Homo sapiens: one gene and its partner. The protein of the gene in region 2 purifies or fractionates together with the protein of the main gene of each other region. This does not show direct contact. Each region holds a gene or a part of one and is shown on either strand. Other genes may lie near its edges.

The links. Proteins that work in one complex are often made in the same cells at the same time.
Region 1: the proteins of PPFIA2 (region 2) and SETD6 purify together in Homo sapiens (affinity purification with mass spectrometry; one large-scale study listed by BioGRID and IntAct). This does not show direct contact.

Annotation. Positions count from the first base shown.
Region 1 is NC_000016.10:58,513,808-58,519,056, reverse strand, and holds the start of SETD6 (N-lysine methyltransferase SETD6), read right to left. Parts: upstream 3,541-5,249; 5' UTR 3,520-3,540; coding exon 3,493-3,519; coding exon of another isoform or gene 3,267-3,492; coding exon 2,960-3,266; intron 2,856-2,959; coding exon 2,714-2,855; coding exon of another isoform or gene 2,609-2,713; exon of another isoform or gene 2,580-2,608; coding exon 2,385-2,579; intron 2,250-2,384; coding exon 2,129-2,249; intron 1,162-2,128; coding exon of another isoform or gene 1,150-1,161; exon of another isoform or gene 1,038-1,149; coding exon of another isoform or gene 1,007-1,037; coding exon 826-1,006; exon of another isoform or gene 825-825; intron 657-824; coding exon 514-656; intron 334-513; coding exon 28-333; 3' UTR 1-27. UniProt on the Homo sapiens protein: Protein-lysine N-methyltransferase. Monomethylates 'Lys-310' of the RELA subunit of NF-kappa-B complex, leading to down-regulation of NF-kappa-B transcription factor activity. Monomethylates 'Lys-8' of H2AZ (H2AZK8me1).
Region 2 is NC_000012.12:81,259,047-81,263,523, forward strand, and holds part of PPFIA2 (liprin-alpha-2), read right to left. Parts: intron 4,345-4,477; coding exon 4,185-4,344; intron 2,995-4,184; coding exon 2,936-2,994; 3' UTR 2,903-2,935; intron 2,165-2,902; exon of another isoform or gene 615-2,164; coding exon of another isoform or gene 586-614; 3' UTR 1-585. UniProt on the Homo sapiens protein: Alters PTPRF cellular localization and induces PTPRF clustering. May regulate the disassembly of focal adhesions.

The DNA.
Region 1 (5,249 bases), on a different chromosome or scaffold from region 2:
CTGTTCCTTCAGGGAACAGGGAAACTGCTAACTTGTCAGCTCCAACAACTGATGTAAGATCATCTTCTGACCATAGCGAACCTGTAAGGCTTGCTGTTCCCTCCAGCTGAGTTTCGCATAGACTTCCTTATTACTGAGTAAACCTTGGTCAGTTTTTAAGTCTGTGGCATAGGTCTGCAAAGTCAGTAGAACACTGTTTTGAAGCAGCTGTCTCCACGATGCTTTGAGCTTGGGAATATTTGTGATCGTCAGGCTGCCCTCTTCCCTTTTATCATCTCCCCCTCCATCCTGGTCTTTAAGCTCTCTGAACTCCTCAGCAGGCATGCACAGTACCTAGAAGCAACCACAGAGCTCTTTAATTAGATGTACTGCTTTTGTACTTCTGAAATGACTCAGGAGACTAAACTCATCTTAGCATTTATTAAAAATCCCACATTTCCTCTCTCATCTTCTAGCTATTTTGCTTTAAATACTTAGATTATCAGCATTAAATGGCCATTTTCAGCCGTTTACCTTTAGTGTGGTGGTCAGCTCCTCTTCAGTCAGCACCTCCTCCCTCCCTATCACAAAGGCTCCCTCTTCCCCTACCATCTCCAGTTTGCATAGGAAATCCCAGCGCTCGTACACTAGGTGCCTTTCAGCTTCAGTTTTTGTTCCTGTAGATGAAACAGCAATGTGAAAGTCTCAGTACACCCAAGGGTTCATTTCTTCTTTAGTCTGCCACCCAGTCTACAAAGTCAACTGCTATTTAGCAAAGCTATTTAACCTGAGGCATGGGTATAGACACACCATCAGTGTCAAATATTGAGTTAATGATACACTCACCCTGTAATGCTGCCTCACGAACTGTCACCATCTGAATGTCAGCTGTGTCATCTGTGTTGTCAGGATATGGTTCAACAAAACCGTACATATGAATCAGTTGCCAGTTAGCCATTTGCCCATAAGTGTTGAAAATCTCATGGCCTTTAGGAATGGGCTGAGTGGCTACCATCCGAAGACAATTCTGAGGTGAAAGGGAGAAGCTGGGGCCATGCCTTTCACGGGCCAGCCCCATGAAGATTATTTCCACTTAAGAAGAGCCTTCAGCAGGTGTAGTTCAGCCATGACTGATGCTGTTAACTACCAAAGTTCTACCTTTAGTTCCTGTTAGACCCTAAACTGTGAAACAAAAAAGGGTTGGGCTAACTTTAAAAGGCCAGCTTCATGTTTAACTGGGTGGATTTCTGCACAGTCCTCTTCAGCACTTAAAAAGTTGCTAGCTTTAAAAACGAAATTTTCGGCCAGGCGCAGTGGCTCACACCTGTAATCCCAGCACTTAGGGAGGTCAAAGTGGGCAGATCACCTGAGATCAGGAGTTCAAGACCAGCCTGGCCAACACGGAGAAACCCCATCCCTACTAAAAAATACAAAAATTAGCCGGGCATGGTGGCAGGAGCCTGTAATTCCAACTACTCGGGAGGCTGAGGCAGGGAGAATTGCTTGAACCCAGGAGGCGGCAGTTGCAGTGAGCCGAGATCACGCCACTGCACTCCAGCCTGGGCGACACAGTGAGACTCCGCCTCGGGGGGGAAAAAATGGAACTTTCGCAGATCAAAGTGGGAAAGGAAAATGGAGGCAAGGATTAAGAAATAACCATACTTACTAATTTCTGATCCTATAAATGTGCCATCTTTTCAGGCTACTTTTTATATAGAATAGAGCTGGTATAAACACAGCTTTATATCAGTTCTAGGATCGTCTTAGACCTTTGGCCTGTGAATGTCCTCATCCCTCCAAAACACGGAGACTATCACTGTTCCAGGCTGCTATCCACAGAGCCACACACAGTCTGGGCTCACTGATGTGATCAGCCAGAAAGGAATGAAACATGGCTATGCAGACCACTCAATGTCTAGCACTAAATAAATGATGGTAGTATAGTTTATCAGAGGATTAACCACAACTTACTTTGAGGACTTTAAAATGTTTCGCATTCAAATGATTCTACAGTAATATGCATACTAAAAGGACATACAGGAGGAGCTGATTTCACCTACTCATTTTGTAGCACTAGTAAGAGAATGGAGCCTAAGACACAATGGCTTGAATCATGCTCAATCAGTGCACCAAGAGAAACTCCACTCACCGCAGAGTATTCTAGATTGGCGTTGTGATTGGCTAAGTGGTTTAGTATGTCTGCAGCAGGCACCATCACGGGGGAGTTGGGCTCCTTTTCATCCTCTTCTTCCTCCAGTGGTTCCTGAAAGCTGCCATTGACAGAACCTGGCTAAGGCCCTGTCTTGGGTGAGGGACTGGGGGTGGATTTCACTGTTTTTCCACTTTTGTCCCTCTATAGAGTTGTAAAGAAAAGGGTTCCGTCCTCAGAGGCCCCACCCACTGACCTATAGGCCATCACAAGGGCCACCAGCTGGTGGTAGAGTTCTAGGGAGCGAACCCTGAGGCTGAAGAGATCGGGGTGGGCTTCCATGAAGGGCAGCACGATGGACTGGTACTCGCTGCGGATGTTGGCCAAATCCTTCTCCACGGCCTCAGGTACGCCTGTGCCCTGGAGCAGGCACCGGCGCTCCTCCTCTGGCCTGCAGGGACACCCACACCCAGGTTCCCTTCATTCCTTCACACACTTTACTGGGTAGGACTGGTGCAGGGGCGGGGAAACTTCTTGCAGCAGGCTACGGTGCAGGCGCTCCCCAACCCCTCCCAAGGCTCTCACCAGAACATCGGGTGCTCCAAGCGGCCCAGCTCGGGCCAGAGCGCAAAGTAGGGCCTCCAGCGTGAGGCCGGGGCCTGCAGCTCGTGGAGCAGCGCCAGCAGCAGTGGCACCCAGCCCGACTGGCTCTGCAGCGCAACTCGCTCTGAGGAAGACACAGGTGTGAGCGCCCCGGCGCGGCCTCGCGGGCCGGGCCCGCCCCGCCCCGCCCCGCCCCGCCCCAGGGCCCTAGCCCGCCGCCGTGCCCACCTCGCTCCAGCAGGCCGCCGATGGAGCAGGTGTGCTGCGACAGGAGCGCGGCCCGCGGCACCACGAACAACAGCTCTCCGGCCTGCACGCTCTCCCGGGCCACCATGCCGTAGCCGGCCACCGTGCCCTGCCGGCTGACCGCCACCTGAGCAGGAGGGCTGGTCAGGGCAGCCCGCGCCCCGCCGCGGGTCCTCCGCCCGCCGGCTCGCTCGCTCACCTTGGGACTCAGCTCCAGCCCCACCCGCCGGCACCAGCTCAGGAAGCAGGCCACAGGATCCAGGTCGCCGCCGTCCACGGGCCCCGCCACCTGAGATAAGTGCGCGCAGTGACCAGGTCCGACCCCCAGAGAGGCCGCTGGGAACTGCAGGAGACCGCGGCGCGAGCGCAGAACGGGCTTTGGGTGGAGGAGGGGACGAGCGGAGAGGGGCGCGGGACCCGCGGGAGGGAGCGGAGGGGGCGCAGGCGGACGGTTCTGCGAACGGAGAAGGGGTGAGGCGCGGAGGAAAAGGCTGGACCCCGCGCCCGCCACTCACCCGTGGACGCTTCGCCTGGGTCGCCATGGTCTAAGAGCGCGTTTCCTCGCGGGCCGGCGCACCGCGCGGTCACTTCCGGCGTCTCTGGCCCCGCCCCGGCGCCGGAACCACGTGGTGCCTGTTTTGTCGTCCACGCTGCAGACTGGCCGGAGTTACCGCGGGCTGGAATCGTTCCTCATGAAAACATCTTGAGTCCAGGATCTCCAATTGCACTCACGCGCTGCGAGTGCAGAAGGAGAGTCCCGTGCCGCTTGGCGCCTGGTTCTGAGCCAGGTACAGCCCTGGCCTTCGGTCTGTCCCCGAGGGCTGAGGCTTCTTGCGGTCTGGGTGCAAGAACAAAATACGGTTTCTGGATCGGAAGCCGAGGGTCTGGTGGCCGGCCGGTGGTGAGCGACGCAACTGGGCGGCGAGCGACCTCCTGATCTCGACCCCTTGTTGCCGATGGCCATGGAACCCTTTTACTGGTGGTATTCGTTCAGAGCAGTTTTCGTGTGTGTTTCAGAGTGGCGTGGCCTAGAGGGCTCCTGGATCTAGAATAGATCCTCTCTGCCCTTATTTGCCAGTACATCCTCGTTTTTAATCTGCTGCATAGCACGTGGTGGGTTTTATTAGCTGACATAGTAGGGACTCAATATCTACCTATTGGGTAAATAAATGAATAAAACAAATGGTGGTTAAACCTGGGGAAGTAGCATGCTGTTAAATGTAAGAAAATGAGGCTGTGAATATAGAGGTTACAGGAATGGGTTTTGAAGCCAAGCAACGCCGCAGCTCAACACTCAGTTTTTTTTTTTTTTCCTTTTTTTTTTTTTTTTTTTTGGCGCGTTGGGGAGACGGGAGTCTCGCCCAGGCTGGAGTGCAGTGGTGCGATCTCGGCTCACTGCAACCTCCACCTCCCGGGTTCAAGCAATTCCCCTGCCTCAGCCTCCCAAGTAGCTGGGACTACAGGCGTACGCTGCCATGCCCAGCTAATTTTTTGTGTTTATTTTTAGTAGAGTCGGGGTTTCACCGCGTTGCCCAGGCTGGTCTCGAACTCCTGAGCTCAGGCAATCCCCCCGCCTCGGCCTCCCAGAGTGCTAGGATTACAGGCGTGAGCCACCGCGCGCGGCCTGGTCTGTTACTCAGGCAAATCCTTTTTCCTGAACCTTAGTCTCCTCACCTGCGAAACTAAGATAATACCTACTCTGTAGAATTAATGTAAGGATTGGTATGTTGACTAAAGAAAAAATATTAAGCTTTTAAATAATTAAAATTAGTTTTATTTAGAAGCCTTATTGAGGACTATAGACTGAGGCCTGTAGCCCAGGAGTAATCTTGTGAGGCTCCTCTAACACGGTATTTTAGTTTAGGTTATACATAGGTGAAGATTTAGTATGTGTAAAATCATATCAAAGTTTAGGGATAAGTATATCTGGTTATAGATTGCAGAGTATAATCATTAACCCTGTCAGACATGATCGTATGTTTAGGAGAAGGCAAAGAGTAGGTCATTTATCTTTGAAGGAATGTAGTGACTCAGGCAAGAGATTTGGAGGGCAGGGGTGTTTTGTTTTGTCTTTAAGGCATTTTTTTCTGGAGAGCTGTATTTTGTTTTTTTGTTTTATTTTGAGGCAGAGTCTTGCTCTGTCATCCAGGCTGGAGTGCAGTGGCACGATCTCCACTCACTACCACCTCTGCCTCCTAGGTTCAAGCGATTCTCCTGCCTCAGCCTCCCGAGTAGCTGGTATTACAGGCACGCGCCACCATGCTCAGCTAAT
Region 2 (4,477 bases):
TTTGGCTCCGGTTCCAGGTTAAATCATTCTTTTTTACATGATCAGAGGCAGGTTGTTCAGCTTTAAGTATTGACAGACTTGAAGGAGAAACACGTTGAAGCATGAAACATGCTTCAAGGAAACATATTGATTTGACTATTAACAATCCAAAAACTGTAAAAATGGTGGAATGGTAAAATACAAACAGTACTTGGAATTGTCAAATGTTTGCACTCGAGACTCCATGAACCATATATTTTATTTTTTAAAAAATCATATTTATATCCATTTACATAAGACTTACACATTTAAAAAGAAATGCACGGTAATACATAAATGCCTAGTATATTACAATAAAACATGAAAAACAACTGGCTTCATTTCATAAAAGCATCTGTTGTACAGAGTTTATGATGTAGATGATGTTTATTATTCAAATGACTTAAGCATTTTATTACAATTTGTAGTAAACTAATCAAATGTAATATCTGACTCCCCCCAAAAATCACATTTTTCAGCTTTTAATAAGTCATGACGTCATTATTTCCTTAGAATTCAGTTTTCACAAAGGTTTTCACTGCTCGTCTTCTTAGATGGTAGTGCACTTTAGGTAGAGTAGACTGAAAAGACGCCATCTAAAATATACAATGGATAGCATTAGTTCACTGAAAAGTCCCAGACTGGGAAATCTCATTCTACTCCTCTGTGGTGTACCTCCACGCAGCCTGCTTACTCCTGTCCTAGAAGATCATGAGAAGGAAATCATCTAGGATGTAGCCAACAGCCGTATGTAATTAACATTTGCTTTTCTCCAATTTGGTGCAGGGGAGCTTAACAAATAATAGAATTTGCTCAACTTTGTGGAAAGTATGGCAGTAATGTAAACAAAGGTAGTTATGCAAAATGTTAGCATGCCTTCTGAAAAATTTACAACTTGCTAATTAATAAATTGGGTTGAATTGACCTATTTCATAATGTAGATTTATATTCTAGTTCATATATTTTAGAGTTCTTAAAAAATACCTTTATTTGTTACAAAAACATAACGATAATAAGTCACCTATTGTAAACGTTTGTGTCAGTAGTATGGCATTGCTGATTGTTTTCAGCCATAATGTACTTAGAAAAAGCTCACAATTGCTATTACTGACACAAAAGAAACAGCAAGTAGTATGCTCTGGATTATTTTAATATCAAAAGTGTTGTTGTTTCACCCAAACAAAAAATGGTTGTCCTAGATTGAATTATTGTAAATGAATACTGTTATCCCAATTAATGGTAAAAACTAGGAAATATGAACTAGAATGTCATGCACAAAAAACAGATTGCAAATAGAGTAACTCTACCCATCACTTAAGAGCTAAGAAGCAAGCACTATTGAACATATTAAATAGTCATTTGTAAATTAGTGAAGTGTTCATTTCCTGAAGAAATTATAATGCTATGTGTAGAATCTAATATAAACAGTATTTTGGGAGACCTCTTATTTAGCCAAATTATTATATACTTTAAATCATGTCTAATTAGGTGCCAAATTATATACCATAATTAAAATTTTAATGTAAGGGTTGTACATTCTGAAATTAAATCTCTTATCGGGATGCTTTTCATTTTATCAGCTTCAAATAGTGATCCAAATAAGGCAGCATATCTGCTCCCATCCTAAGCCCAAAAGACCAACAATAAATTGTGTGGCACTTTTAGTTCAAGGCAATGAAAACAGCACAAGGTGAGTTGTTCCTCTGTCTATAACTGTTTTCTCTTAACCCTGTGCACACATTTTGTTCTAAATATCGCTCTTAAAAAGTATTTTTCTAAAATATTGATTCATCGAAAGTGGTTAAATATTTTGGTAAAGCATAGTTTTAGGTTGAAAAAAAATTATGAACATTTGACATTTATAAATCTAAGAAACCACAGTTTTACTATTAAGACTGTTTTTCAATAAAACCTCATTTTTATATGGATTTTAAAGTAGCTTTCATTAATTGGTATTTCCTTAAAATCAAATGCTTGGTATTTATGGTTACATAGGAAGGTTTTGTGCTGGTCCTATTCTCCATTCTTAAAGTAATTTTATTTTGTTCCTATATGTCTTAAATACTTAAAATTTATATTTGTTTTTAGCAAGTGTAAATCAGATTGATAAGAAACAATGTAATAAAGGTTTGAATTTTTCACAGTTTCTACTATTTATTTATTGATTTATTTTAAGACGGAGTCATGCTCTGTCACCCAAGCTTGAGTGCAGTGGCACCATCGCTCACTGCAACTTCTGCCTCCCAGGTTCAAGTGACTCTCTTGCCTCAGCCTCCCAAGTAGATGGGATTATGGGAGTGCAACACCATGCCTGGCTACTTTTTGTGTTTTTAGTAGAGATGAGGTTTCACCATGTTGGCCAGGCTGGTCTCTAACTCCTGACCTGAAGTGATCCACCTGCCTCGGCAAGTTTCTATTTTTTAATATGAAACCATCTCTAAATCATTTTCCTGTCTGTTGCTATTTGACTCGGTGAACTTGCTTAAATCCCTATCCGCTACCTTGGCTTCCTTATATAAAATATACACTTAAAAAGATAGGATTTTTTAAAGTGCTGAATTATTATCAATAAAATGCTAAGTTACTCAACAGGAAATGGTACTAAAAAGTAGAAAACAGTGTAGTGGCAACCCATTGATGTGTAATAATACAGTGATAGGCCTCCAACAGGCAGACCTTAAACCACAGGAGACAGATGGTGATAGGAAATGCTAGACTAAGTGTTACAATATGAAGATTTCTTTTTCCCCTGAAGCAATTCAAAAGGGTTATCTCATTTCTGTACTGCTAGGGCATACCAAAGAGTATAGTGTATATTTATTAGTCTATGTAGGTTCCATTTTTTTGTCTTTTTTTTTTTGTCAGCCAAAGGGAAACTACTCACAGCAGGTCAGTGCTGCCTCCTTTGAGTGGCTGGTCAACATGAGTATGTGCGAACAGTGGAGTTGTCTAACCTCTGCAGTCTTGATGAAGCAACTGCAAATGGAGAAAAGGGCTTTAGAGGGACTTGGATGATTGAGTACAAGATTTCAGATGAGAAAGATTTATTTTCCCTGCATACAGGGATTCCGAACATATTAGTAGACCTTCTTTCTCTCAGATATAAGCCACTCACATTCCTCTTCTCTAGATCAAGTTCCTAATGAAAATTTATCCCAATGTAAATGACCTGAGCTTTTGAGTTGTTATGTATTCTTCCTTAGATAAAATCGGTAACAAGAGCAGCTCCCGAGGGTGCTTCTGATTTTGATATGGAGATTGCTCTTAGAGAACTCATTATAGTGGATTTTTTTTCCTTTCCAAGTATTGAAGAACTTCTACACTAATTGTAATGATGTTAAATTCCTCATGAATTTCGCTGACATGTTCCACCGTATTAACAAGTTGTAAGAAATGTAGATCAAGATCACAGTTTATGTTGGAACTAAATTTGAGTTATAATAACTGTGACCTTGACAAGAAATAATGATGCTAGGTGATTATCTTAACAAATAGCATGGGACTATTTTTCTTTAATGCCTCCCAAACAGAAATAATTTTGTGACTACTATTTCAAAGTTGTCTCTCCTCTGGAATGACTTTTCTTTTGTAAATTAGATAGCTTAAGTCTAATGTCCACAGAAGGAAATAGTAATTGGGAAATTACTGTGTTTTGTGTTTCTTTAATTCTCTTCTCATGTTCATGGCTTGTTTATTTAAGGGCTTCTGCTTTGGCTAGAGGGAAAAATATTTGATGAGTGAATTTCTAAGATGACATATAAAACTCGCAGTATTTAAACATGTAGGGAGACAGTGGAGTTAATTTCCATTTACTATGGATCTTTAGTCCAAGTCCAACCTCTAACTTAAACAAATTGTTAATTTTGGGAATAGAAGACTAAAGAAACACAAATCCTGCCGATGTTTATTGTTCCTCCTAGAGGTGGACATTAACCAAATTGTTCTTTTTGGGATGTTATAAATTATTTTGAAAATGTGAATAAAGTGCCATGAGTTCATGCAATAGCAGTGTAAAAAGGAGTCTGGTTTGTGATGAGAGCAAAGTAAATTTCAAGCAGAGCAAACCAACTCAAGAAAATAATTCCAAAAAGCAAGGTCAGAGAATTATACTAGCTTTGGCTAAACAAGCTTTTTGCTTGATAAGCAGCAATGCAAAACTACTGTACCATCTGTTGTCATTTTTCTTGACTGCCCAGAGGTTGTGGTTAACCTAAATCCAGCTGGTAATGTTTCTGAGGACCCAGGCATCATGCTGATTCCATGTACTTCACGAGGAGGAAACTGCCTTCTCCAGGTTGATCCACGTCTGAAGTTCTTGTCATCACTCTGCCAGTACAGTTATAAGGTGATGTTATGAAAACAAGTAAACTAGTCCATGTGCTTAAAGCTCTGTGCTTAGAAACATGTAACATAGATTATTTACATTTAGTCTGTCAAGTATACGTATGGAATCACGCTT